Linked DNA regions of Homo sapiens: all the other regions are linked to region 2. Evidence: fine-mapped expression QTL. A gene starts in region 2. Each other region holds a variant in brackets. All regions are shown on one strand. Distances are from middle to middle.

Region 1 (8,014 bases), 140 kb after region 2:
AGCTCCCACGGCGCTCAACGGACTCCTGACCTTCATGAACAGACCACGGGGCCGGCAGCACCTGCATCAGCGTCTGTCTGGCTTCCTCTTCAAAACCCAACAGACTCCATCTGGGCCCCAGAAAACTGCCCTGATGCTACAGGTAGGAAGAAAAATCTTTTAAAAGCACGTTAAAAGGCAGGCCTCTAAAATCAGCTTCCTAGACCATGGCGGGAAGAAGAAAACAGGCAAGAAATTTCCGCATCCCAGCTTCAAGCTCCTCCACTTGAGCAAGACAGTAATAATGTCTGCCACCGGAAGACACCCAGTGCAACACCTGAAGCAGTCAGCGTTGAGTGTGCCCAGGTGACACACATTTACAACCCCACCAGTGGGTCCCTGTCATCCACCAAAAGCAAAACACCTGGTGAAGGCTGCTGGGGATGGCAGCTCTTTCTCCCCAAGCTTTGGCTTCTATGTGACCTTGTGCAGCGCCCCCGCCATACCTTCCCCAGTCTCCCACTGTCTCCAGGCTGTGGCCCAAGTACTCTGGTCTGGCATTCAAGCTCCTGAGCTTGTCTCCTGCTGCCCTCCCAACTGTGACACGGCCATAGCACCCTACATGCCAAAAATGAAAACAATGGCCACCATGTCTATGTTCCATACAGGACCTCATTTAATCCTCTCCACAACCCTATGAAGTTACTTCTGTAATTATTCCCACTTTCCCTACGGAAAAACTAAGGCTTAAGAAGTGTCTGCAACTTTCTCAAGATCTCAAGCCCAGCAATAGCAGGGCCAAGATGAAAGATGAGATCAGACTCCCATGTTCTTCCTCACTGCACCACAAAATACTGCCTCCAAATCCCCAAATGCTCAGCGCCCTCTCTGAGGTGCCTCCATGCCTCTGCCCAAGCTGTTCTCTCTGCCCAGAAGGCCCTCTGCTTGCTTACCCACCATTCTCACCACCCCAGACCTGGCCAACTCTAGCCTCAATGTCACCTCCCCTAAGTCTTCCTAGAGCTTCCCATGCCCCACCTAGTTGCACTCACAGCACTGTGACCTTCACAGCCGCATTTAAGCTCAGAGTCCTCCAGTCCTCCTGGCTGGAACCACCTGTTCTCCTGTCTGCTGTTCAAGTTCTTTGAAACTTAGAGTTGAAGGTGGATCTCAATAGCCATTGAAGCTGGACGGCAAAGTGGCTAAGGGTATGGAGTGAGACCTTAGGCCAGTGAGTCCTTCCACTTGTCTAGATCTGTTTCTTTACCTGTAAAATGAGATTATCCAATAACCATACCAAACTCATAGTGTTGTTATGAGAATTAAACAAGACAATATAAGTAAAAGCAGTGAGCACAGTGCCAGGTACATGACATTGACCTTCCCTGAACATTAGCTGCTGTTGTTATGATGACTTTTACTTGGTAACCACTACGGGGCTCGCCACTATGCCTGATACACTGTTACCACTTAATAAAGGTCTCAGGGTTGGAAAGGAGAAAGGAAGCAGGCGAAGGAGGAAGGAAGGGAGGGAAGAAGAAAGAGACAGGGGAAGGAAGAAGGGAGAGAGGAAGGAAGAGAGGGAGGGTGGGAAAAGAGGAGACAGAGAGAGAGTGAGAGAGAGCAGGGAGGGAGGAAGTCAAATCAACTCGGAATAAAACTATCTAACCAGCAAACGCTGCTCTAAATGGGAGTAAAAAGGTGAAATTTCTTCCACTTGAGGCCATGACCTCCCACTGGGACTCTGATCAAGAGTCCTCACTCACTCATCCAAGCCTTCCTTTCTTCCTCTTTGGTGGAGGCTGCATTACCTAAGCCTGTAGCCCCAGCTCCTAGAACCGCCCTCACCCAGCCCCACCACCAACTGGCTGGGGAGCTGCCTGCTGCTCTGCATCCTATGATCAGAGATAAGGCCTGGCATTGGAAGAGTTTGTGTCCGCACGAATAAAAGGCAGGCAGTCTCTAAGAGAAAACCCGACCTCTGATCCTGATGCCGGGGAATATTTATGTGACCCTTTAACCCCTATATTTAAACACTAGTTCTTTGATCCCAATACTCAACACTTCACTCTTGCAGCAGATCTTTGCAATATTCTCACAGAAGTGGGCATCCTGGCCGAGTGTGGTGCCTCATGCCTGTAATCCCAGCACTTTGGGAGGCTGAGGTGGTTGGATCACCTGAGGTCAGGAGTTCGAGACCAGCCTGGCCAACATGGCGAAACTCTGTCTCTACTAAAAATACAAATATATATATATATATATATACATATATATATATAGCTGGGCATGGTGGTGGGCTCCTATAGTGCCAGGTACTCAGGAGGCTGAGGCAGGAGAATCACTTGAACCCAGGAGGCGGAGGTTGCAGTGAGCCAAGATCACGCCATTGCACTTCACCCTGGGCAACAAGAGTGAGACTCCGTCTCAAAAAAACAAAAAGAAGTGGGCATCCCTTAGCCCCAATTCTAGGAAACCCACATCACCTTCCTGTTAACCTGAGCTCAGTCTGTTTTTCTGTGACCAGCCCCACCCATGCACATCCCCCTCCCCTACCTGCCTGAAGACTACACAGGCAGATTCACACTTGCCAGCCAAGGCTTCAAAATCAAGCTC[T/C]ACCAGACTCTCCTGGCATCCAGCTCACCAGAGGCCAACACCTGCTCACCATTCGACAGCACCCTGATTCCTACTCAGAGGCCCCAACGTCCCTGCCTCTCAGCCTCAGCTCCAGGGGTCTTCCCCGAGCCTGGCCTCCTTCACACAGGCCTTGGTCACAGGCAGATCTGGGTGAGAAGAGGAGCCACGCTGAGCATCAGGAGCCCTGGGATTTGAAGCCCCTTCTTCTCTCCACAGCCTTGTGACCCTGGCCCTCTCTAGGCTTCAATTTCATGTTTTGAAAAATGAGCACTGGAGCCAACGGTGTTTCCCAAACCTCAGTCATCAGTTGCCGCCGCTGTGACTTCTGCATAAAATGCATGGTTCTTCTTTTCTTAAAATTAGCTTTCCGGAGGTGTAATTTGCGCTGTAAGAGGGTGCACCTCAGACAGCCCTGACAATCTGGAGAGAGAACGTTTTGTGGAAGGCCATCATGTTCCCGTGTGCCCCTCGGCACCTTACCTTTATGTGCTTAGTACTTTTCTTTAACACTACTGACTTTTGAAAAACCTGTACACTACTTCAGCCTTATTCTAAGCAAAAATATCCCCCAAATCATAGGCTTCAGGTGCTATATTTTATAACTATAAGATACAGTTATATTTTCCCTAATGCACACTAAAGTATTATTAAAATAAATTATGTTTGGCTACTGTCACCTAAAATCTCACATCGCAACACTGGTGAGCACTCTCACTGAGAAATGCGGAACCAGCTACCCGCTCCCTGAGGCCCCTTTTGGCTGGGAAAGTCTGGATCCTGCCTCTTACTTGTCACAGAGTCTGCCCAGGTCTTGTATGCGGCAGATGTTTACTAAATACTGGCTGCTGAACCAGAGTGAGAGTTCAAGGCCATCTCTGCAGCCCCCAGACCATGCCTGGCTGACTGCATCCTGCTGCCTATGGTGAGAAGGCACAGGCTTGTGTCCTGCAGAGCTGATAAACCCTGCACTCAGGGAGACACTGACCCTCGCAGGAGGGAAGACAGAGCGGAGCTGGACACAGGCGGAGGCTGAAGAAACAAGCAAATCACTGGACGTGCAGAGAGGCTGCACTGGGGAGAGTTGCTCCTATTTTAGGCCATTGAACTACTTTAATAATTCGGTCATTTTCACATCAAAACCATTGCAAGGAAAACCCCCTAGGATGTTAAATCTGCATGCCCAGAAAGGATTTACCACAAAGAGCGTGAAGAGAGTGGTCCCCTTCCAAGTCCCCATTTCACAACAAGCTAAAAACCGAACAGAAGCCTTTAGTTCCCTGAGTGATTGGACAAGGAATTTGTCAGATGTCTATAGTCCTTTAAAAAAAAAAAAAAGCAGGGGGGATATAAAAGGAAGAGGATGCATTTCAGCCTTGAAAAAGGCAATACCGAAAAGGCAGACACCAAGAAACTTAGCAAGGCTTCCAAGAGCCCAACACGCACAGCCCACTGCACGCAGGGACTGTGCCCAACTCTGCAGCCCTGGCAAATGGAATTCTTTTCAATCCGGCCCGCTGAACCCCTCTTTCAGTTTACTTACTACCCAGCCCACTCCTAACTCCCCACCCCCAGCCATCATGAACTACAGACAGCACCCTAAACATCCTGTTCTGCCTTTGTATCCAGTGGACAGTCCTTCCTTCCTCCTCCACTTGGGAAGCTCCTATTCATTCCTCGAAGGCCTATTCATCCATCGCCTCCCACAGGAAGCCCCCTGAGACCCTCTCACTCCACAAACCAACACAGAGCACGCAGGGAAAGGTGCGGGGTAGGGTGGGGGGTCTTAGCTGGGGTGGAGCCTGAGCCTCAGAGGCTTCCTTCCTTGTCCTGTGGATAAAGGAATTTAAAGCTCATTCCCGAGCAGTGGGAAGACAGTCGGGAGATGCCAGCCCAGCCTGCTGGGAAGATACTTCTGGTGACAGTGTTGGGGTGTGCTGAAATTGGATCTGTGACAATGCAGTTGACTCTCCGCTATCAAAAGGCCTACACATGAATGCCTGGCTGGAGCTTCCCTCCGCAGTGACCCTGGTGTGCCCACGAGGAGGACGAATGCTCCTCCTAAGGAGGAAACAACATTCCCTCCTCTGCGCTCAACGCCTTTTAATACCAGCAACCACCACTCAACCACCACCACCGCGAATGTTTACCCAGCCCTTATCCTGCGTCAGCTCTGCTCCAAGCACTTTATATTTAACCCTCAAGAGAACCCTAAAACATAGGTATTCTAGAGATTTAAAAAGTATGGAAAGGCTAAAACACTTGTCCAAAAGTGCACAGCTACTAAGCGGGACTCAAATCCAGACAGTTTGGTTCCAGGGTGGGTTATGGTGGTTGGAAAAATGACAGCAAACTCCTAACTGGCTCTGAAAACTTCTAAACGCCCAGCGCTGCTACCTGATTTCCCCTAAAGAACTCACGGAGGATTTACGCGCATATTCAGCTGCAGGGACATGCACGGATGTGCTGTTTACAACAAGGAAAATAAGCAGCCAACTAAATATTTGCTAAATATTCACCAACAACTGTATGTCCCATGGCACATTTATAGAACGGGATATTATAGTGTCCTTTAAGCTGAAGCTCTATCATCTCAAATTTTGCTCTGAAGGCCTGTGTATCCTGATTCCCAAGTGTGCTTGCTAACATGCAGCCTTCCTGGGTCCTGCCCTAGACCTCATGAATGGCACTCTCTAGAGGTGGGGCCTGGCAATCTTAAGTTTGCACATACATTTTTCTGTGCGGTAATGTGTGAGAACCGCTGCTGGGGATGAATATCTACTGCCACGGAAAGGGTCAGCTCTGTGACTTCTGTCCGTGGTGGGTTCCTCAGTGCGTAGAACAGTGCCCAGCACAATAATGGATCTTCAAGAAATATTTGGTGATCCAGAAAACCCATCCATCAACAAACTATTCTGAAATAATCTGTTGGCATTTCTAAATACCTGACCCATCTGTGTGTTTCTTGGGAGCAGAGACCGGGAACATCTTCTCACCGTACCACGCCCGGCACAGAGCCAGCCAGCCACGCGCAAAGCCAGCCCTCGGAAGTGGCCCGCCAACACAGGAACAAGCGAATGCCACTGTATCACACTGATCCTAAGTTAACGTTTCTGAAATCAAGATTCATCTCACATTCAATGCCCCATCATCATTTAATGAATAGCACTTTTTCCCATTTCTTTAGTGGTACAAAAATAATGATGCATGTCCCAATTGACAGCAGCTTAGATTTAATAAAATACGGTACCTAACAGAGTCCAGAATTCTGATTTAAAAGTTTAAATTAGCTGCCAACACAGCTAACAGATTGTTGTGCATTTCCTTTCTTATAATTTGCAGAAATAAATCCAGAGCCATCTGTTCTGAGCGTTCGGCTTCAGCCCCCAGTCATCCTGGTGACCCAGGGCTTAGCTACTGAGATGCAACTCAAAGATCTGATGCATGTGGAAGGCTTTCATCTGTCTTCACCCAGGAAATGTCTGACAGCATCCGCTGAGATGTGGGAGCTAAAATATCTCCTTCATTGAAGGCTGTAGGATGTACAAGAAAGGTCAGTTCTGGGCTAGACCTTGGTTACATCCCAGCTCCACTGTCCCCAGATGTCTGGTCTTGGGAATCTCATGGCCACACCTGGCACATGGACATGGTCTGCCCATGATAGGTGTTGGTCACGTTACAATTGTTCAGTAGACCCACACCCCATTGGCCAACAGCCACAGCCCTGAATTTTCTATAACAAGTTCCATGGCTAGTGGTTTGAATGCGTCCCTCAAAGTTCACTGTTAATCCCCAATGCACCAGTGTAAAGAGGGGGGACCTTTAAGGGGTGATTGGGTCATGAGGGCTCTAACCTCATGAATGGATTAATGCCATTATTGCCGGAGTGGATTCCTGATAAAAAGCTGAGTTCAGCCCCCTTCTCAGCTCTCTCTCTGGAACTCTCTTGCCCTGCTGCCTTCTGCCATGAGATGTGGCAAGAAGGCCCTTGCCAGATGCAGGTCCCTCCACCATGGACTTCCCAGCCTCCAGAACTGTAAGAAACGCATTTATTTTCTTTATAAACTACCCAGGTGGTGATATTGTGTTATAGCAACACAAAATGGACTAAGACGAGTGCACCTGGGCAGGTTACTCCCTCTGCAAAAAGGCGCACGGGATGGGAAGCTGGCGCACAACACAGGGTTGTCCCAAGAACCAAATGAGATTAAATTGAAAGCTCTCTGAAAAGCAGCAATTTCTATGGTAATTCAGGTAATTTGTGATATTTAGGAAGCTACAAATTATAGATATAAGAATCTTCAAATTTTCAAATCAAACTTCAGCGTACACTTTCCGTAACACCTTTTTTGACTAAGAATCCATCATTTTCCTAACTTTTTCATAAGCCACTGGCACAGACCATCACAACTCAGAACCGGGATCTCCGAGCTACAATCCCACCAGAATCCCAGCTCAGCCATCTTCCCCAGCGTAGCCCTGGACATGCTACCTAACCCCTGCTTTCTCCTGTTTAAACTGGTGCCAGTTGTCTGTGGTTTCACATTCACTGAGCAGGTTAGATATGCCTCTCCGTAAACACCAGCCATGAAGCAGCACACCCAGTAGGGTGTGAGTGAGGGACCGTAGAGTCGAGAATTCTGATGAAAAAACTTAAATTAGATGCCAACACAGCTAACAGATTGTTGTCTATTTCCTTTCCTTGGGCTCTGTTAGAACCAAGGGTGTCTTGCTTTGCATCAGCAGCACTAACTCCTGATGCAACAGCTTTCTTTCTATGGATCACTTCATTCTCCCAAAGAACACAGCTTCTACAACTTCAGAAGAGTTATCTGGGCCACATTTCCAGGGCTATGTGCTATGAGGTAGGGCTCAAGCTGTCGGCCAGCGCCGTCCCTCTCCCTGTGTGAGACGCTGGTCAAGTTACTCCTGCTCTCTCTACCTCCTCTCCTGACCTGGAACGCAAGGATGGGGAGAACGGATCGCCTCACAGTGTGGAGGGCAGACCATGCTGTAGGTCATGCAGTGCACGCTCCATACATCCCAACTTTGCCCTGCGGATACTACATGCTTCTCACCAGGGGTCACAAGCTCAGCTATGAAGCACTTGAAAGCCCAGAACCTAACATCATAGGGATGGTAGTGGGATGGGGTGGTGTCTGCCTCCCAGTCTGTATCCATGTAGGAATCTCAGTGATGGCCACAGGTGAACGTGGCTCCAGGAAGGCTTCCAGAGGCAGGACCCCTGCGATGTTCACCTGGCCACCCACAGCACAGGCCTGGCTGGATGAGATGGAGAGCAAATTTTGGAGTAAAATAAAGGGCTGGGGCTTGGGTTTGAAGTCACAGGTGGAACATGATTCACTGGAAAGAAAGGATGAGGTATTCCAGAGGGCCTGCGGGA
Region 2 (5,000 bases):
GTTAAGTCACCCAGGTCTGCAAATAATGCCATTTCATTATAATGTTGATGAGAAAAAAAAAGATTCCCAGCCAGGGCCACTGTCTATGTGGAGTTTGCCCATTCTCCCCATGTCTGTGTGGGCTTTCTCGGGGTACCCTGGTCTCCTCCTGCAGCTGTAACACGTCACCACAAGCTTGGCGGCCAGAAGTCGGAATCAGTCTTCCTGAGCTAGTCGAGCTGTCAGTGGAGCCAAGCCCTCTCCGAGGCTGAAGGGGAAATCCAATTCCTGGTCTTCTCCAGGTCTAGAGCTGCATTCCTGGGCTCCTGGCCCTGCCTTCATCTTTGGAGCCAGCTGCATGCAATCCCACACTGGCGGCCACACTGCCATCCCTAGACTCAACCCTCTCTGTCTCCCTCTCGCAAGGATACTTGTGATTGGTCTTAGAGACCAGCCGGCGAATCTGGGTCCATATCCCCATGTCACCATCCTTGACATGTCGACATAGTCCCAGCCTGCGTGAGTGTGCGCGTGGGTGTGAGTGTCCTGTTCAGGCCTTGCACCCTGAGCTGCCGGGAGAGGCCTCAGCCACCTGTGACCCTGAACTGGAACAATTGGGTAAATAATCATCTTACTTGTGTTTTTTTGAGTCTTTCTTAAATCTAAATTTGTTTGAGCCTTTCACATTTATTTCAATGTTTAACATTAGAAGTGTTTGGGGTCTTTATCTCAAAGTTTGGTGATGTTTTTGTGACCTGAAATATGCTGTAGGAACTTAACTCTTATTTGTATCAATTAGCCTATGGTCAAATTAGTTTTGTGGCCAGGTGTGGTGGCTCACGTCTATAATCCCAACACTTTGGGAGGCCAAGGCAGGCAGATCGCTTGAGGTCAGACGTTCGAGACCTGCATGGCCAACATGGTGAAACACTGTCTCTACTAAAAATACAAAAACTAGCTAGGCGTGGTGATGGGCGCCTATAGTCCCAGCTACTCGGGAGGCTGAGGCAGGAGAATCGCTTAAACCCAGGAGGTGGGGTTTGCAGTGAGCCAAGATTATGTCACTTCACTCCAGCCTGGGTGACAGAGTAAGACTCCATCTCAAAACAAAGCAAAATAAAAAACAAAAACAAATTGGTTTTGTTGTAGGTTGCTTCACTTAGTCACAGTTTCCAAGGGCCTATAGACAACGTTCAGTGAGGACTTACTGTGCTTTGTCATGGCAACCCAGGCAAACTAACATAACTTTGTATATGACTCTCGGAGGGTAAGTGCGTTGCAGAATGAATGAAAGAATGGGCAATCACATAGAGTAACAGAAGAATTTTTCTGATTTGTGAATTTCTTCATGCATAAAACTTTACCAAAAGGAAGAAAAGTAAATCACATGTGCATACACGTTCAATGGTCTGCCTTTACTAAATCAAAGGCAAGTACAAGAAAATGGGGAAGTCCCGCAAAAATCCAAGGCACGTGGCTGCTGGGATATGAGTAACGTGTCAGAATCAATCCCCGCTGTCACTGCATTGTGCTTCCATGCTGGGTTTCGCTGATCTATATACAAGGCCCAACCTCGTTCTGCCAGTCTGGGTGTCAAGACATCGTCAGGAAAGAAGATGGGCTTTAGAGAAAGACCTGGATTCAAACGCCCCACCTTGAGGCCAGGTCAGCTCCATCAGGCAAACAGTGCCCACAGCAGGAAGTTCTACAGAGAGAAACGAATGCGGAGAACCTATTTCAAAGATGACAGCAGAGTCCAAAGGCCAGACAGAGACAGGCAGCCTGGATTAGCAACTGCCGGAAGCCACTTCTGCCCCTGGGGCTGGACAGCCACACAGGGAAGAGACGATGTTACCAGGGCAGGGCAGAGCAGCCAGGCCACCCAGCGGGAGCTGGGACCGCAGAGGAAGCCGAGAGCACATCTGAGTTACAGCCACAGTGGGAGATGTCACTGTGGGAACAAGAGTGACTTTATTTTAAACGCTAATCCAGCAGGTGACTCTTGACTAACCCTGAGTCCACGAATGCCTCCAAGATGTGGAGTTGATATAGTTCTGTTTACGTAGAAACACCTATTCATTGTGAGTTTCCTCCAAAACAACCCTTGTCATTGCAGAAACCATAGGCTGTGATGCCTGTAGCCACCTATGCAAGCCTTCCAGAGCACACATGCTTTTTCCCCAGGATATAAGCCCTGGGTTGGGGATGGAAGGTTTGCTGTGTGGACATCTACTTGTCTGGCGGCTGCCTAAAACCATGCTTCTGTCTGCCAGTTCCCCTAAAAAAATCACCCCAAACCGACCAACTGGATTTGTCTGCCTCTGTCCTTGGTTTCTCAGTTCCTTCTACACTTCCCTGTCACTTTGAACATAGGGCCCTTTCATGGAACAGTCACCCAGAGAAGAAGAGAGGGAGAACACCTGGCTTCTCCCTGCCTCCCTCCGTTTCAGGGCCTCCCATTGGCTGCACCTAAATGGAAGCCTTTGAGCAGAGGAGCCCGGGCAGCCTCATCTGCAGGTACAGAGCAGAAGAAGGAGGGCGGGAGGAGCAGAAGGCAAGTGACTGCGTGGGCAGGTTACGTGTCTTTGGTGAGCCAGTTTCCCCAGCTGTGTGGTGTGATTCAACACACCATGGTGACACACTCTGATGGCCCCGCGGTTTGTGAAATACACACAGAGAGATCAAAATGGCATCGCTACCTGCTTCTCAGCCCGGACTCCGATGTCACGTACTTGTCCTCTGCTGCTGACAGCTTCTGCTCGGAGGACTCCAGCTGCCTCCTGAGCGCACCCATATCCATGTCTGGGCGGCCAGCTGCTTCTTCCTGAAGACATTCCCGCTCCTCAGCACTATCTTCCATGTCCTGGAATATCCAGGATGTGTCAATCTTCACATCAACGTTCATTATGTCGAACCCCTCACTGCTGGGGGCTCTGATGACGTAGCTGAAACTCTCCTCAGTCCGTCCCTTGGCTGTTGGCTCCATCTCAGAAATATTTCATGGGGCAAGACTTAATAATAAAATTAAGTGAGTTTGCAACATTGACTTCCCGGAGATTTCAAGGTGGTGTTTGTGACTTCAGATTGTTCAGGAAAATATCCTTTGAGAAGGGCAAGAACAGGTGGATTATTCATGAGTGGGTGACTTGGGTTTCATCTGCACAAGCGTCATACAATATGAATGAAAGCCTCTCGTTTTACAAGTCAGCATGCCAGAACTCACGCAAAGCAAGAAAAAGTTGCAGAAAAATCACTTGAGATGAAATGCCTAGTGATGAACACAGAGAGGAAAAATAAGACCTCCAGGTAAGGCCATCAGATGTTACAGACTCCCAGTAGTCAATGAAGCTTATCTTTTTACCACATAATGAATAAGGTTCCACACCTCCTCTTTGAGCACAGCACATATTTTTCAAGGACCTAGAGTTTGCTAGGGGAAGAGGATGGGAAATTTATGCTGCCCTGGGTGCCGTCTGCATCCAGGGCAGGGGCCTCTCATGCCTTACCTAGTCCAATTCTCCCGGTGACCTTATGAGGTGGGCGTTAACATGACCATTATACAGATGGTCAGACGGAGGCTCTGGAAGGTGAAGGAGCTTATCCGGGTCCCACAGGTGGGATGGGAAGTAGCAGAATCAGGATTCAAATATGGATCTGACTCCCAAACTGGAGTGTGTGTGTTCTGACACAGGAGATACAGTAATAGGTGAGCAACAAGACCCCAGAAAAGGAGCAAACGCATCCTTTGGGCACCCTGAGGAGGGGGAGCGAGCATGAGGCTGAAGAGATCGTAGGAGGAATGGGGAATTACAGCAGAGAGAGGTGGGGAGGAGACTCCCCCAGGTGGGGAGCATCCTCAGGCCACAGACCCGCACAGACAGGCAGGACAAGTGAAGGGAACAGGAGGACCAGACAAAGCTGGCCCCGTGGACACACAGAAGGAGGAAGTGAGGAGTGAGGACAGAGGAGGCTGGGTGCCATCTTCTCTCAGGCACTCAAGGACTCCGGCGTTTCTGTGGGCCCCTGGGAGAAGGGAGGTGCCTGGTCAAATGTCATTTTGAGGATCGAGCACTCTGGGGTTTGCAGGAGCGAGATGGAGGCAGCTGCACCTGTAGGAGGAGGCAGCGCCACAGGCCAGGCCTGGTGCAAAGAGGCGTCAGGACCAAGACAAATAGAAAATGAGAGGCTTCCGTCTCCCTGTTAAAAATAAGAGACGTCCTCCCTCCCTTTTCTTAAAGCATCTACTTTAGAAAATGTGTAAGTTCTTTCTTTGTCTCTTTGAAATATGTGTAAATCCTTTTTACAGCGAAATAAGCCTTTTCCAGCATTACGACTCAGGAATGTTTCCCTGAAGGACCTGGGCACCGCCTCTTTGAGATGTAAATTCGAAGGAAAACAGCGCCCCTAGTGTTCAGTGGGAGGAAGGAGCCGAATTGGGCAGGCGCCTGGCTCCGAGATGCAAAACCTGTCACAGTAAGTGACAGAAGGGTGGAACCCAGGTGCAGGAGAAGCTTTTTTTTCCTTTGTATAAAACAAATTAATGAACACAGAGGGTTGCCCTCGTTGTCAGGTGAGTTTAGGATGAACCATGTGAAACAATGACGCTATCGAGTCCTTTTCCGCAGGGATGAGAGAGGATGTGTGCATGGATTGTGCCTGCCTGGCCATATAAAAGGGTGAAACTTCTTACTGTCTTTGCAATCTCTCAGTGGGTTACCTGTAATGCACCTCATATCTTGGTTTAATGCTTATTCAATAATAAACCTTTTTTAAATTTTCTTTGTGATGAGGTTTTCTGTGCTGGGAGAAGCTTTTGTCTTTAATCATATTTTCCCAACAGTGGCCAATGTCTTGTTGGCCACAAGGGGTTTCCGTGGACCTGGGGCAGTTGGAGGCGGGGGATGGGGGTGCAGTGGAGCCACTCAGATCCCAGGCGCTGGGGCCAGGCTGCCTGGGTTCCAGGCCTGTCTCCATCGCTTCTCAGATGTGATTTTGGACAAATTACTTAACTTCTCAAAAAA
Region 3 (6,852 bases), 160 kb after region 2:
TTCACATGGGATTGTTCACCAGCTGTCTCCCTGCCCCGGCACAGTGCCTGGCTCGGAGAGCACACTCGGTCATTCATTTATGAATTGTTTCTCTGGAATGTCTTCAGAATGGATTGCCACATCCAAAAAGATCAGGTTACAAAGCTGGTATAGCATATTCCCAGGAAAAAATAAAACTGGGCTATATGTCCAGAGAGTGGTTGGGGAAAGACTAGAATGTGCTTTTCAAACCTTTGTTGCTCTTTTTCATGAAATGGTCTTAGAAGGACCCACAGGCACACCTAGGTCTCCCATGCCACCTTTGCTGAAACCACCTGGGCAGCCCTATGTGGCTGGAGAGAGGGTGAGATTCTCATCTCAAAGCCCCAGATTCACTAACTCTAACCCCTAAATGACTGCTTAACCTCGTGGGGTCTTGGTTTCCTCCTACCATCTTGCATGGTGGTTGAGAGGCTTAAAGAGGAACCTAAAGCACCTGCTCAGGTGAGTACTCAGTAAATGCAACAGCCAAGAGGCAGACTGGATGGAACAGGACAGGAAGGCTGAGCCCCACACAGGGAGACCCTGCCCCATCCACCACCACCTCCTTCCTCTACCTTCCTGACACCCCCTACAGGCACCGTCAAGGGACAACCCTACAAAGCCACAAACCCACAGGAAACCAAGCCCATTGCCCTGACACAAACCTACCTCCTCTGCAAAAGGTGACCCTGCTCATTGCACCAGGCAGAGAACAAGGGAAGGGAAGTGGCCCAGCAGTGGCCCTGAGTCAGGCTGCATGGGTCTCTTGGGGTATCACTCCTGCCCCCAGACCAAAAGCAACAGCTAAACCAAGAGCTGCCACTCAAAAGAAGAGACTATTCTATGCCAGGTAGTATGCTGGGTACACCTCATCTCAATCCATCCTCAAAGCCTCCTTGTAAAACAGGTAGCAATATTATCCCCATATGACAGATAAGGAAACTGAGGCTCAAAGAGGTGAAGTCACTTTCTTAAAATCCATAGCTTGTAAATGACAGAGTCAGGACTTGAACCCAGGTCTCTCTGAATCTAAGACCAGTTCCCAGCTGCCCAAAGAACTGTGTCTGTTTTGTTTTCTATCCCTAGGACCAGCAGCATGCCTGACATCCTCTTAGAAGCCATGCAAGAACATTTGCAGGGATAAACAGCAGGCTCCTTCCTGCACAACAAGCCATGACCCTCTTAGAACAAAGCATATTGACAGAAAATTAAGTGCCACTGAATTAGCCCCAACACTTTCATAAACAGCAGTTTTGAAATACCCCAGTTCATGAAATGCTTCCAATATCAGAAAACCACCAACTTCAATTCCCCACCAAACATACCCACAAACAGAAATAATTTCTGATAAAATTGCTACTCGTAACATTCAGAACCCACAAAAAATTCTCATCAAATAGAAATGAGAGTTGTTTATCAACATTCAAGAGAACATAATGAAGCTTCCTTTAGAACATTCTGTGCACGTGAAGTCTTCTTTCTTATTGAGATTTTCACTATAAAATCTTATCAGCTGCTGAACAGGAGAGAAACTTGGAGGTGAGGATAGGCAATGGGGACCGATACCTGTGCTACAAGAAGAATTAAGCACCATAACAACACAGACACCCCTCTCCCATCAGATAATTTACTACAATTCAACAAACATGCACCAAGTAATAAGTCACCATTTATATAGCTCTCACTGTGTAGCAGGAACTGTTTCAAACTGTCCAAATTACCTAGTATTCTGCAGCCCTGTGACAAGGGTATTCTTAGTACCCCCATTTTAATGGACCAGCAGGAAGGGGTGAAGTACTTTGACCAACATGACCCAATTAGCAAGTGGGGGTGGAGGTTGTAGCAAGTGGATGTTGCAGCTAATTCAGTGACATTTAATTTTCTGTCAACGTGCTTTGTTCTCAGAGGGCCATGGCACATTGAGCAGGGAGGAGTCTAGCTGCTCAAGTCCCAAGCTTAGTATAAAAACTTTTTCTTTTTCAACTGCTACTTGCTGGCTCTTGGCCAACTCATTGCATCATTTTGGAATCTCCCCTTTATTAACGTGCAAAGACCCCTTAAGAAGTCCCAGAAAAGGCCCCAGCCATCAGGTCGTTTCTGTCTCACCTCTGCTGAAATGAGTCAAGAGACTAGCAAGTAACCACACCACCAAGAACAAGAAGGGGTAGTCAGTGACTTCCAAGCAAAGGGCAACTTCTTTTTGTGGTTTCTA[C/A]ATCCTTTCTATACTCACCACCCCGTGTGGGCTTGATATGACTAGATGCTGAACAGGGCGCTCCTTGACAGACACCTACCAAACACCTCCTGTGTGCACAAGGCTTTGTGAGATGTGCTGGTGGACGCAGTTCACATTTCTTAGGCTTCCTCTCAAGAAAGCAGTTCCAGAAAGGGTGGAGGGGAGGGTCATGCTGAGAGAGGAAGAGACCAGGGGCTCGAAGAGTAACACTAATTACAGGCCTGGAGTACATAAACCAAGATGAGCTTACTGCCAGGTTACTACCAGGTCACTATCAGGTTACCACCAGCTCAGTACAGAAGGAAGTCCTTCTCAGGTGCAGACATTTGCAGAGTCCCTCAATGTCTCAGTGGCTCCCCCATCCCTTGAGGAGCTCCTAGCCAAGCAAAGGAGACACTGTAACAAGCCCAGGTGATAACTGGGAGACCAGGGCCTATGGGTGCCAGCGTGGTGAGGGAAGGGACATCCAAAGTGGGCTGTGGAAGGGGTGAAATCAGGATATGCAGATGGAGGAGCAGGGGTCAAAGAAAAGTCAATTGGCATCAGAGAGGGAGAGCAGCAGCAACGCAAGCTCCATTCATTCATTCATTCATTCAACAGCATCCTAGTGCCTGTTCCATGCCAGACCCTGTGCTGAGCCTCAAACATGAATCTCACACAGCCCCTTCCCTCACAGAGCTCTAGCCAGCGGGGAAGAAGACTGTGAATGGCATCAGTCACACACTGTGACCATGGCTGTGACAGACAGATGTACAGGGAGGGACCCGCCCTGGCCTTGGGAGGATGGGTGATGCCCAAGGAGATGAGCCTGTGCAGACAGGAGGAGGAGGGGTCTGGGCAAGTTCAGGGAAAGCAGACGATTCAATAAGGTAAGGGACAGTGTTATGGAGTGAATGTTTATGTCCCCCCAAATTGATACATTGAAACCCTATGGTGGGTAATTAGGTCATCAGGGTGAAGCCCTCATGATGAGATTAGTGACCTTATAAGAAGGGACAGGAAACCAGGCTCGGTGGCTCACACCTGTAATCCCAGCTCTTTGGGAGGCCGGGGAAGGTGGATTGCTTGAGCTCAGTTCAAGACCAGCTTGGGCAACATAATGAGACCTCATCTCTACAAAATTAAAAAAATTAGTCAGGTGTGGTGGTGCATATTTGTAGTCCCAGCTACTTGGGAGGCTGAGGTGGGAGGATCACTTGAGCCCGGGAGCTCAAAGCTGCAATGAACAGTGATTACACCACTGCACTCCAGCCTGGGTAACAGAGCGAGACCCTGTCTCAGAAAAAAAAAAAAAAAAGAAAGAAAGAAAGAAAGAAAAGAAAAGAAAAAAAGGAGGGGGACACAAGAGAGCTTATTTCCTTTCTCTCTCCACCATGCGAGGGCACAGTAAGAAGGCAGCCTCCTGCGAACCAGGAAGAGGGGCCTCACCATGAACCAAGTTGTCTGGCACCATGATCTCAGACTTCCAGCCTCCAGAACGGTGAGAAATAAGCTTCTGTTGTTTCAGCCCCTCTGTCTATGGTATTTCTGCTATGGCAGCCAAATGGTCTGAGACAGTAGGTAACAGCAGGAGCATCAGGAGATAAGGCCACATGTGTGATGACAAGGAGTCTGTGCTTTATCCTGGGCCAGCGGGGAGCCCCTGGAGCAGTGGAGTGACAGTGTGAGTTTCGGAAACATATCACCGTTTCTAGATACAACTGCTCCTTTCCCCAAACACTTCCTATAACTCCACAGCCATCCCGAGGAAGAAGGGAGCAGATATGACCTGGAGATGCCTAGGAAGGCACAGGTCCCTCAAGGTCTGCTCACAGAGACTTGGAGGTCAGGCCAGTGCCAGCTCCCAAGGCAGCCCTTCCTCCCGCTCAGCTCAGCTCAGCTCAGCCAGTGATGGTCCTGGAGGCTCCAGGTTCCCAGGTCCCATCTTAGTAATACAAGGACTCTTGAAGGTTGAGACAGAACAAAGAGCTAAACATGATACAGGCAGATAACAATACCACAGATATCTAGACACACAGATACAGGTGCCCTGCGAAGGGGTGCTGGCTGATGTCTAAAATGGAACAGGGCCAGGTGCAGTGGCTCACGCCTGTAATTCCAGCACTTTGGGAGGCTGAGGCAGGCGCATCACCTGAGGTCAGGAGTTTGAGACCAGTCTGGCCAACATGGTGAAACTCCGTCTGTACTAAAAATACAAAAATTAGCCGGGCTTGGTGGCGGGTGCCTGTAATACCAACTACTTGGGAGGCCGAGGCAGGAGAGTCGCTTGAACCTGGGAGGCAGAGGTTACAGTGAGCCAAGATCATGCCATTGCACTCCAGCCTGGGTGACAGAGCAAGACTCTGTCTCAATAAATAAATAAATAAATAAATAAATAAATTTAAAAAAGAAAGTAAAATGGAACAGAAACTTCAGTACTCAGGGTGCTGGGACTTGGTTTTCAAACCACCTTCCATGGAGTCCTGGTGCTCCTTGAAGATGTTTGGGAGGGCCAGGAGTCAAAGGTCTGGAGCAACAGATGCTTGACTTCTTTTTTCTAGGTGTAATAATTTTAAACTGTGAAAACATCACACCAACTCAAATGGGCTGCAAACCCAATATTAACCCTGGTAGACCCCACTGCAGGGACCTGGGCTGCCAGGTGAACACTCAGCTTTGTGCAGGGCTTGGGGGACAGCCTCTCCTGTCATCTCCAGTGAAATGCACTCTGAGAATGCAAGACAAGTCACTCCCAAAAACGGAATCACAAATGCGGTATGCAAATCGTCACAACAGAATATTTTCACAACCACAACAAAGTCCATTAATACTCAAGATGCCACAGCTGTTCAGATTGCAACTGTCACCCTATACTTTTCGTTTTGAAAGTTGAATTCATCAGAGCAACCTCACTGTCCTCACTGACTGACCTTATAACTGGTAAATGTTGTCAGTTTAAAGTCATAAGATAAATGTGAGAATAAACCATCACTTCTCTGTTTTGTATATTGGAGCAGGGTGGTTTAGCTATGTAAAAATTTTATTTTTGAAAAGACTTCATTTTGCAGATGGGAAAACAAACCCAAAGAGAGGTGAGTGTATCACACTGTCCTGTGAGTATCATCCCTTCTCAATAGGCAGAAACCAGGTGCCCAGCACATAGCAGACACTCCACAAATGCCCTAGGGAAGGAAGAACCGCTCCCAGGCACCACAGCCAGGAAGGGGGCATGCCTCGAACACACGCCTCCCTACTCCCAGCCCACTGCTGGTTTTCAGACTCTGCCGCCTTCCCTCCTTTCCTAGAAATGACAATACAGCCCACACTCAGCATCACAAGGAGGGAGAGAGGGCAAGGCAAGTGCAGTATAAGAGCCAGGGTGCCTTCCCTCTTCCTCAAGAAAATACTAGAAGCCAAGCACACCCTCCACCCTGAGCGCCAGTGTGGGATGGGTGCTATATGGACGGGAAGAGCTGCTGTCTGCACTCTAGGAAACAAGGGTCCCCCGCGCTCACCTGTAGATTCAGCAAGAGAGCAGGGGTGATTGTGCCTATCGAAGGGAAGCAACCAATTGTCAACTATTTTAGAAACAGCCAAACAGAATGCATAACTACAGGATAAGTGGAGTGATGGTTAATATTGAGTGTCAACTCGATTGGACAGAAGGATAGAAAGTATTGTTCCTGAGTGTGTCTGTGAGGATCTTACCAAAGGAGATTCACATTTCAGTCAGTGGACTGGGAGAGGCAGACCTGCCCTCGGTGTGGGTGGGCACCATCTCATCAGCTGCCAGCACAGCTAGAATAAAGAAGGCAGAATTTGGAAAGAGCAGACTTGCTGAGTCTTCCGGCCTCCATCTTTCTCCCGTGCTGGATGCTTCCTCCCCTCGAACATCAGACTCCAAGTTCTTCAGCGTTTGGCCTCTTGGACTTCCACCAGTGGTTTGCCAGGGCTCTCAGGCCTTGGGCCACTGACTGAAGGCTGCACTGTCAGCTTCCTTACTTTTGAGGTTTTGGGACTCGAACTGGCTTCCTTGCTCCTCAGCTTGCAGATGGCCTAATGTGGGGCTTCACCTTGTGATCTTGTGAGTCAATTATCCCAATAAACTTCCTTTCATATATACATCTATCCTATCAGTTCTGTCCCTCTCGAGAACCCTGACTAATACAAGTGGGAACCAGCCCTGTCTGCCCTAGTTCTTAAACTGGAGAGTGTATTGGAATTGCTCCGAGGGCTCATTAAAAGCCAGACCCCAGGGGCCGGGCACGGTGGCTCACGCCTGTAATCCCAGCACTTTGGGAGGCCGAGGTGGGCGGATCATGAGGTCAGGAGATCGAGACCATCCTGGCTAACACAGTGAAACCCCATCTCTACTAAAAAATACAAAAAATTAGCCGGGCGTGGTGGCAGACGCCTGTAGTCCCAGCTACTTGGGAGGCTGAGGCAGGAGAATGGCGTGAACCTGGGAGGCGGAGCTTGCAGTGAGCTGAGATCACGCCACTGCACTCCAGCCTGAGCGACAGAGGAAGACTCCGTCTCAAAAAAACAAAAGCCAGACCCCAGCTGCAGAGTCCCTGATCCAGGAGATCAGGGTGGGGCCAGAGGACCTGTGGTTCTGA
Region 4 (8,049 bases), 90 kb after region 2:
TACATTGTGCTTATTCAAGGAATATGTTCATTTTATCGAGGTTTCAAGTTTATTGGTATATGCTGTTTGCTGTGGTTTTATTGACTGTAGGAGCTGTGGTATTTCCCCCTTTACATTTTTGATATTAGTAATTTATTGTCTCTGTTTTGCTTTATCAATATTGCTAAATGTTTGTCAATTTATCAGTTTTAATTAACTCTTGAATTTGTTGATTTTCTTTATTGATTTTATTTCACTGCTTCTTGCTCTTTAAAATTTCCTTCCTTCTACTCTCTGGAGTTTAATTTGCTGTTCTTTTTCTTTCTTCTTGAGATAGAAGTTTAGATGCTTGATTTTCAGCATTTCTTCTTTTTGTCTAAAATATGTTTTGCTCTAAGGACTAATTACAACCCACAAATTTTGAAATGCGGTCTACAATGATAAAAGTATGTCATGTCCACAGTATTCTGCAGTTGTGGAATAGAGTGCTCTGTCAGGTAAGTTCACGTTGGTTAATTGTGTTGGTGAAATCATGTCTTTATTCATTCTTTGTCTGTGTGTTCTACTGTTTGCTGAGAGAAGCGTGTTCGTCCCCAACCGTAACTGTGGATTTGTCTGCTTCTCCTTTTAGTGTTGATAATTTTTTTCTTTTATACATTTTGAGGTTTTGTTATTGAATGCATTCCCACTGAATTGACCCTTTATTATTAAGAACTGTCCTTTTGTGTCTTTAGTATTACTTCTTGCCTTAGAGCCTTTGACATTAATACAGCCAGACCAGCTTTGCTTTTAGGAAGTGCTTGCACAGTGTATCTTTCCCCATCCTCTTATGCTCCATGTCACCATGTCCTCATAATTAAGATGTCTCTCTTGTAAATATCACTGTTACTCTTTGATCCAGTCTGAAAATCTCAGCTTACTTTACTTCTTAGCCTCCTGCCCCACACAGCTTCAAAGTGTGACAAACGCCCTGAGGGGCAGACTGGTCATGTGTTTGTGGCGGGCCCCCTCCCTTTGTCTCCTACGTCCAGTGAGGGCATGGGAGCTGTCATTCTGCCTTTCCAGCTGGGCTCGCCAGCCTCCCCCTTCACTCCAGGACTCAGGAGGATCTCCTGTGCAGCAAGCTGGCCTAGGTGGGGCTCCTCTGGTTTCCATTGTTTCATGCCCACTCTGAGATGGCAGAAAAGTCCTACTCATCTCTCTGAGGACATCCAATCCTCAGCCCGCACCCAGAATCCACAAATGCCCCAAGGGAAGAAAGCAGCTGGCAATTAGGCCGCCCAGGCAGGGCTCTTTCCCCTTCCCTTTGGAATTTTAGTTCATCCACACTCCACAGCTTCCACAGATCTCCAGTATCTTTCAAAACAGGACTATTTGCAATTTATATGTTTCCCTTGCTGTTGCAGCCAGTTGGCCGGCCTGCCCTGACCTGTGGCATCTTACCTGGAGATGGAAGTCTGCTCATGGTTGTTGAAGTAAATGAATCAATAAATGCCCGACACTTAGATACGCTATCACGAGGCATTTGCAACAACCCTCGCTAGTCTCCATTAAGCTCCTTTGACAAATGGGGAACTGTTCTTTGAGCGGATTACCTGCAGCCCCAAAGCCTCCTTACCACACCTAAGACGGGAGGGAGGTTGCTGGGGCCCCAGTGCTTTGAACAATGCCTGGAGCACAGCAGGTCCTCGGAGCTCCGCATTTCCCCCATGCGTGCAGGGAGGGAAGGCCGCGTGCCCGCGGGCGGGGGAGGGGGCGGCACGTACCAGCCTGCGGATGTCGCGCTCGCACTCGCGCTTGATGCGGTGCACCTCGTCTTGGTGCGCCTGGTAGGCGGCACGCAGGTCGGCTGCCTTGGTCTTGTCAGCCTGCATGCAGTTACTGAGCGCCTCCTCTGCCTGCTTGCGCGCTGCCTTGAGCTCCAGGATCTCCTGCTGCAGCCGCAGGCGCTCTCCATCGAAGGCCCTGCGCGCCTCCTCGCGCGCCTCGGTCAGCAGCGCCGTCTTGACCTTGTCGGCCGCGCCGTCGCGCAGCACGTTCAGCGTGGCCTGCAGCCGCTGCAGCTCGCCCTCCTTGATCTTGGCGGTGCGCGCCGCCTCCTGCTCGTGCTGCCGGATGAGCCCCTCGCGCAGCGCCTGCAGCTCCTTGGTCTTCTCCTCATGCAGCTTGGCCTTGAGCTCCGAAATGTAGGCCGTGTGCCGTCGCTGCTCCTGCTCGCGCTCCAGCTTCGCCTCCTGCAGCCGCTCGCGCAGTTTGCCCACCTGCAGCCAGAGCGGCGAGAGAGCCGGTCAGGGTCAGGGTCAGGGTCAGGGTCAGGGTCAGGGTCACAGCTGGGGGAGCTGGCCACAGCCTCCCCACGCCCAAGACACCCACCTGGGCCCACGTTCCCATGGATTCCCCCTTCGGCAGTGCCCTGCAGGCCTGACCCTCCTGCCAGCCCCACTTAGAATCTCTCCTGCTAGTTCCCTGAGACTTTCCCTGGGGGTGGAAACCCCCTGAGGATGCTGGAGAGGCATTCAAGCCTTTGACATCTCTTCCAGGTTGTAAATTGAGACGACTGCTCAATCACAAAACACACCCTGCAGAAATCATCACCAAGACCCAAAAGATTGTAAACCAGAAATATATTTCCAGGGCCCCATGCGCGGACTGTGGAGTTGGAAAAGACAGACCAGGCTTCTAAGTCCTGGGGGGCAGTGAGCAGGGGGCACCATTCTTGTTGAGTGGGGTCCCTAGCTGGGCTGGGGGCTCCAATGCATCACCCACATTGCCACATGAACCCCTCACGGTCTTGGGAAGGAAGTAGCGTGCTCCCTCTCTTTCTCCCTCTCTCCTCTCTCTCTCTCTCTCTTCCTCTCTCTCTCCTCTGTTTTATCATGAGGCAGCCAAAGATCAGAGACAGTCTGGTGAGCTGCCCAGGGTGAGGGATGAGGACCCTGTGCTACCAGGCAACCCACCCCGCCTTGAGCCTATTCATTTTATCAGCAAACAATTCAAAACATTACTTATAAAACGTCCCAAGGGAGTGTGTTCTTAAAACACTTCAAAATGCTTTCTTTAACCTTTTTGTTTCAAATATCACTCAACACACATTCCACAGGAACGCCTGACAAGCCCTTATTTCCTGAATTCTGCCCGTCTCTGAAGACCTGAAATGAATTGCCTCTGGTGGACAAGCTGCTTCCAGGGAAAATGGCAATGTTTTTCCCCAGACCACACTGTTGATAGCATAGTCACATGTTAAAATTAATTTTAGGTGAGAAGTTTTACAATGGCACCTGAGTATTGATAAATCCTTACTTAAAACAGCAGGTAAAAAAGCAAATAAAACCAACCCAGGCAAACACACAAGATCAACATCTCCTTTCACCAGATACTCACAATCATAGGAATGAAGCCAGGCGACCAGTCCATGTTCTGTCCACCTTACCCTGGGGGCAGCAATCAGCATCTTTTCCTAGTGGATTTAGCAGCAGGAAGCCAGAACTTTAAGTATTTAACAGAATTGTCCCAGTTATGGACAAAATGGTTTTG[A/T]CTGTTCTCCCTCCTGCGAGGCAACAGTCAAGTCCCTGGTTAATGCCGACAGCCATCTGGGGCCAGCAGGGTCAGATCCAATGAGATCCTAATCTGCTTTGATGAGCTGCGTTTCCCCAGGCAAATTTCTCTGCCTCTATGGTGGCTGATGTTGTGGGTCGACTTGGCTGGGCCACAATGCCCAGTCGTTTGGTCAAACACCAGTCCAGATGTGGCTGTGAAGGTACATTTTATAAGAGATTAACATTTACATCAGTAGACTCTGGGTGAAGCACGGTGCCTTCCACAATGTAGGTGGGCCTCATCCAATCAGTCGAAGGCTTTAAGAGAAGACCGAGGTCCCCTGCGGAAGAAGGAACTCTGCCTCCCGGCTGCACTGGGACTCGAAGCTGCAAGATCAACCCTTGCCTGAATCTCCAGCCTGCTGGTCTGCCCTACACATTTCAGATTTGCCAGCCCCACAACCGCATAAGCCGATTCCTTAAAACTAACGAATAACCTCTCACTCTGTGGGGGGTGTGTGTGTGTGTGTCACAACCTATTGGTTCTGTTTCTTTGAAGAACCCTGACTACACAACCTTCCAGAGCTCCAGTTTCCTCTACTAGGAAACAGGGATGGCAACAGCTGCCCCTCAAAGGCCCGTTGAGAGGAGGAAGATGAGGTGACTGTGGGTGGGTGAATGGAAGTCTGTTGTTATCGTGGTTCTGACTTTCTGCATCAGGGGTGGGCAGCCTCGTGTGAGAGACACAGGTAGAAAGGGGGTGAGGAACATGGAAGGGTGGGCAGAGGCCTGTGCAGGGCAGCCCGGGGCGTCTAGGGGCTGCTTCCTGGGAGGGGCAGAGGTGCTGCTGAGGCTGGTGATCCAGGTGTGTAGGGCAGGGATGGTGACAGAGAGGCAGGGGCCTGGGGACAGGGCCCTGCTGGGTCCCTCCAGCTCTGCCCAAAGCTGCTGAGAGCCAAGCCCAGGTGACATGACCTATGCCACAGAAGCAGCAGAGTGAGGCTGGGGTGACCTCTGATGGGCACAGAGCACTCCCTCCCACCACCACTCCATCCAGCTGAGCAGGCCAAAAAAAGCCGCCCAGCACTTTACCTCCAGGTGCCTCCAAGCTACCCCAAGTGTAGAGGCACCTACACCAGCCGCTCCTCAGCACTTGGACTCTAAATGCAGCCACGGCACAAAGGCCAAGAGAGGGAGCATGCCCTGGGGGTGTGGGGGCTGGCGTGGAGAAATTATCTGAACCACCAGCACCACCCTCACTTGCCACTCCCACTCAGAGAGTGAGTCAGATTCACCCCTTTCCATCCTCATCCTCATCCAATCCAGCAGCACTGGCTCTCCATGTCCAGGCCTGGCCACTTCCCCACTTCCCCCTTGCCCAAGCCACCTGCAGCAGCCCTCCCCGCCACACCCTCCATGCTCAAAGCCCTCTAAATCTCATGGGTACCAGTTCACTACTCTGAAACCATCATACATGTATAGTGTTGAACAAAGAAAGTGGATGGCAGAGGGGGAAGCCAGGTTTCCCACTTGGAGTAAGAGGTTACAGACAAGCAAGAGGAGGCTGAAGGGAGCCATGCGGCAGTGGATGCGTCTTGGGACATCTGTAAGAACTCATGTTTGACTTTGTATGGATATAGATGTCATATATGGAAATATTTACAGGTATGCGTACATACGCAGGTCAGTATACACATATATATTCCTTGTTCTGGCAGCTGAGAGGGCCTAGAAACAATGACACCGCAGCAGTGATGGGCACGCCTGGTGCCTGGATCTTTGTTTCTAATGCCATTCTCCAATAAAAGGAACCAGGACCCCTTAGAGAAACTGCTGGGTCTAGCGCTGGGGTAGGAAATATACAAGATGTGCCTGGGGCACCTTTTTTTTTTTTTTTTTTTTTTTTTTGAGTCGGAGTCTCGCTCTGTCCCCCAGGCTGGAGTGCAGTGGCACGATCTTGGCTCACTGCAGGCTCTGCCTTCCAGGTTCACGCCATTCTCCTGCCTCAGCTTCCAGAGTAGCTGGGACTACAGGCACCCGCCACTGCGCCCGGCTAATTTTTTTATATTTTTAGTAGAGACAGAGTTTCACTGTGTTAGCCAGGATGGTCTCGATCTCCTGACCTCATTATCCGCCCGCCTTGGCCTCCCAAAGTGCTGAGATTACAGGCATGAGCCACTGCGGAGCCTGGGGCATCTTATAATGCCAGAAAGTAAGGAAATGCTCCACAAAACCCCCACAAAACTGCCCCTGTGAAGCCTTGGGTTCTGCTTGTCCCTGCACTATTTTCTAAAACCTCTGATGGAATGTGCCCAGGGCTGCTGTATTGCTGGTTTCCTGTGAGGCTCTGTACCCATGCGACTTGAGGACAGGGTCTGTCTCTGAGTTACTTCCAAACACTTCTCACTCAGCCCAGGCATGGAGCATGCATGCCAGGGGTTTGCAGATGAATAGACAGACACGTTTACCACCCTCCTTCATCCTACAGTGTTCAACAGGGATGCTTTGCTAAAATGCCAGCACTTTAAATGGGACATTGACAGTGATTGTGAGATCATATCAAAGTAACACTTCAATGCAATTGTAAAGTTTGCATTTATGTTTTTTGTACCAGTCAATAAGCACATTACTGAATTCTCAGAGAATTGAAATTCTCCCAGCAGCCAGATGGGTAAAGTCAACCTGAAGCGGCCACATGGATGGCTGGATTGAGAAAATAATCAGCCAGCGTGCATCCAAGTGGAAATTGCCACACGTCCCAGAGGCAGGGAGGCAGCCTGGTAACAGGGAGGCCCAGCCTGGGGTCCGCATGGGCCTGGCTTTCAATCCTGCAATACCACCTACTGTGCTGGCCTCGTGTGTGGGGCTAAACTGTGTCCCCCTGAAAATCATATGTTGAAGTCCTAACCCCCATGACCTCAGGATGTGATTCCATTTGGAGATAGATCCTAATGAGGTCATTAGGGTGGGCCCTAATCCGATTTGCCTGGTGTCTTTGTAAGAACAGAAAATACAGACATGGACAAACACAGAGGAGAAAGCCATGTGAAGACACAGGGAGAAGGCGGCCGTCTGCAAGCCAAGGAGAGAGGCTTCAGAAGGAGCCAATCCTGACACCTGGATCTGTGGCTGCCAGCCTCCAGGACTGTGAGACAGCAATCGTCTGTTGCGTAAGCCGCCCTATCTGTGGGACTTGGTTACTGCAGCCCTGGCAAGCTAACACACCTGGGCAAGTCCCCGCCCTCTCCAGCCCTTGGCTTGCTCACCTGTAACACGGGGGAAGCCACACCTGATCTCTCAGGTCACTGCCAGGGTCATGACACCCTCTAAAGCACCTGGTGCTATCTGCACAGTAGGCATGTAAAGGTCACCCTGATGGTCATGTGAGCGTATGACAGGCAGCACCCAGGCCCTGTGTGTGACTGTCTCATTCATTCCTCAAACAACCCAGGAGGCAGACACCTTAGAGGTCCCCATCTACAGATGGGAAAACTGAGGCAGGGGGTTACACAGCTTATAAGACCTCAGGCAGGGGTGGTGGTGGAGAGGGGATTTGAGCCCAGGCAGTGTGATATGAGTGAGCAGCTTTCCCTGTCACCACAGCTGCTGTAGCTATGTCCAGATACAAGCTGCCAGCCCTTACACCCCCAGCCAGTCAGCCCCAGCCCCAGCCCCGGAGGTGACCTGGCCTGTTGACCTGGCTAAAGGGTGAACAGGTCAGCATCACCAGCATCCATGTCTAAAAGAGGCTGGATGCACTCGGCCTGGAATCTTGAACACCTAGGGATGGAGACAGGTGCATCTGTCCCCAAGTTCCAGAAGCCCAGTCCCCTGGTCCAGAACTCAGCCTCTGCTCTGTGTGGCCATCCTGAGCTGGGGTTGCAGCCAGATCCCAGGCCCCAGCCCCGTCCCCACCTGGAAGCTGGATCTGGCCCAGCACTCCATTGGCGACCTGAGTCCCAGCTCAACAAGACAGGGACGCCTGCTGCAATTCCCCAAGCAGCCTCCACCCGTCACTCCAGGTACTACAGCAGGAGCCAGAGGGCACCTTCGGGGCTTCAGATAGACCTTCAACTGCTCGAGCCACCCAGGAGCAAGCCTGCATCTCCATGCTCTTTCTGTGCTCAGCCTGGCTGGCAGCTCCTCTCTGGGCTCACAGAACCCTGGGCTTGCTCTACCCTCAAGCCCACCCAAGTCAGAAGCAGGCCACCAAATAGGACTGCAGCTGTGCCTGGGCACCAGATGTTGATGGGGCTTTTTATTGCATCCATTAATCAGATCCTCATGACCATCTTAAACCGGACAGCTATAATTACACCATAATAGCTGGTGTCAGATGAGAAGACAGAGGTTTCGGAGACTTTTAGTCACCTGGCCAAGATCATGAGACCAGTTAGCGGACAAGCTGAGGTTTGAAACCGGGTCTGCCTAGAAAGCCTGTGCTCCTCCCCTCTGTGACAGCCCGTGCTTTAATTAGACTGCCAGCACCCAACCAGGCACTGTCCTGACCAGCTCCAAAGCTCAAATCTGCCTT

The links.
Region 1: its variant is fine-mapped to the expression of C4orf50 in whole blood (TOPMed, PIP 0.99).
Region 3: its variant is fine-mapped to the expression of C4orf50 in whole blood (TOPMed, PIP above 0.99).
Region 4: its variant is fine-mapped to the expression of C4orf50 in whole blood (TOPMed, PIP above 0.99).

The regions. Positions count from the first base shown.
Region 1 is chr4:6,150,567-6,158,580 of GRCh38, forward strand. All of the region lies in intron 1 of JAKMIP1 (janus kinase and microtubule interacting protein 1), which reads right to left. Among named protein-coding and RNA genes, the nearest start is that of JAKMIP1, 46 kb to the right of the region's middle. RefSeq lists an enhancer at 2,673-2,842. The variant T/C (reference allele first, on the strand shown) is at 2,593.
Region 2 is chr4:6,015,467-6,020,466 of GRCh38, forward strand. C4orf50 (chromosome 4 open reading frame 50) reads right to left here and starts at 2,965. Exons shown (of 12, transcript NM_001364689.3): 1 at 2,679-2,965. The coding sequence starts at 2,965.
Region 3 is chr4:6,178,876-6,185,727 of GRCh38, forward strand. The region is part of intron 1 of JAKMIP1 (janus kinase and microtubule interacting protein 1); the gene reads right to left. Among named protein-coding and RNA genes, the nearest start is that of JAKMIP1, 18 kb to the right of the region's middle. RefSeq lists an enhancer at 1,904-2,193. The variant C/A (reference allele first, on the strand shown) is at 2,234.
Region 4 is chr4:6,103,728-6,111,776 of GRCh38, forward strand. It overlaps JAKMIP1 (janus kinase and microtubule interacting protein 1), which reads right to left. Exons shown (of 21, transcript NM_001099433.2): 3 at 1,746-2,240. Among named protein-coding and RNA genes, the nearest start is that of C4orf50, 89 kb to the left of the region's middle. RefSeq lists an enhancer at 1,961-2,493. The variant A/T (reference allele first, on the strand shown) is at 3,514.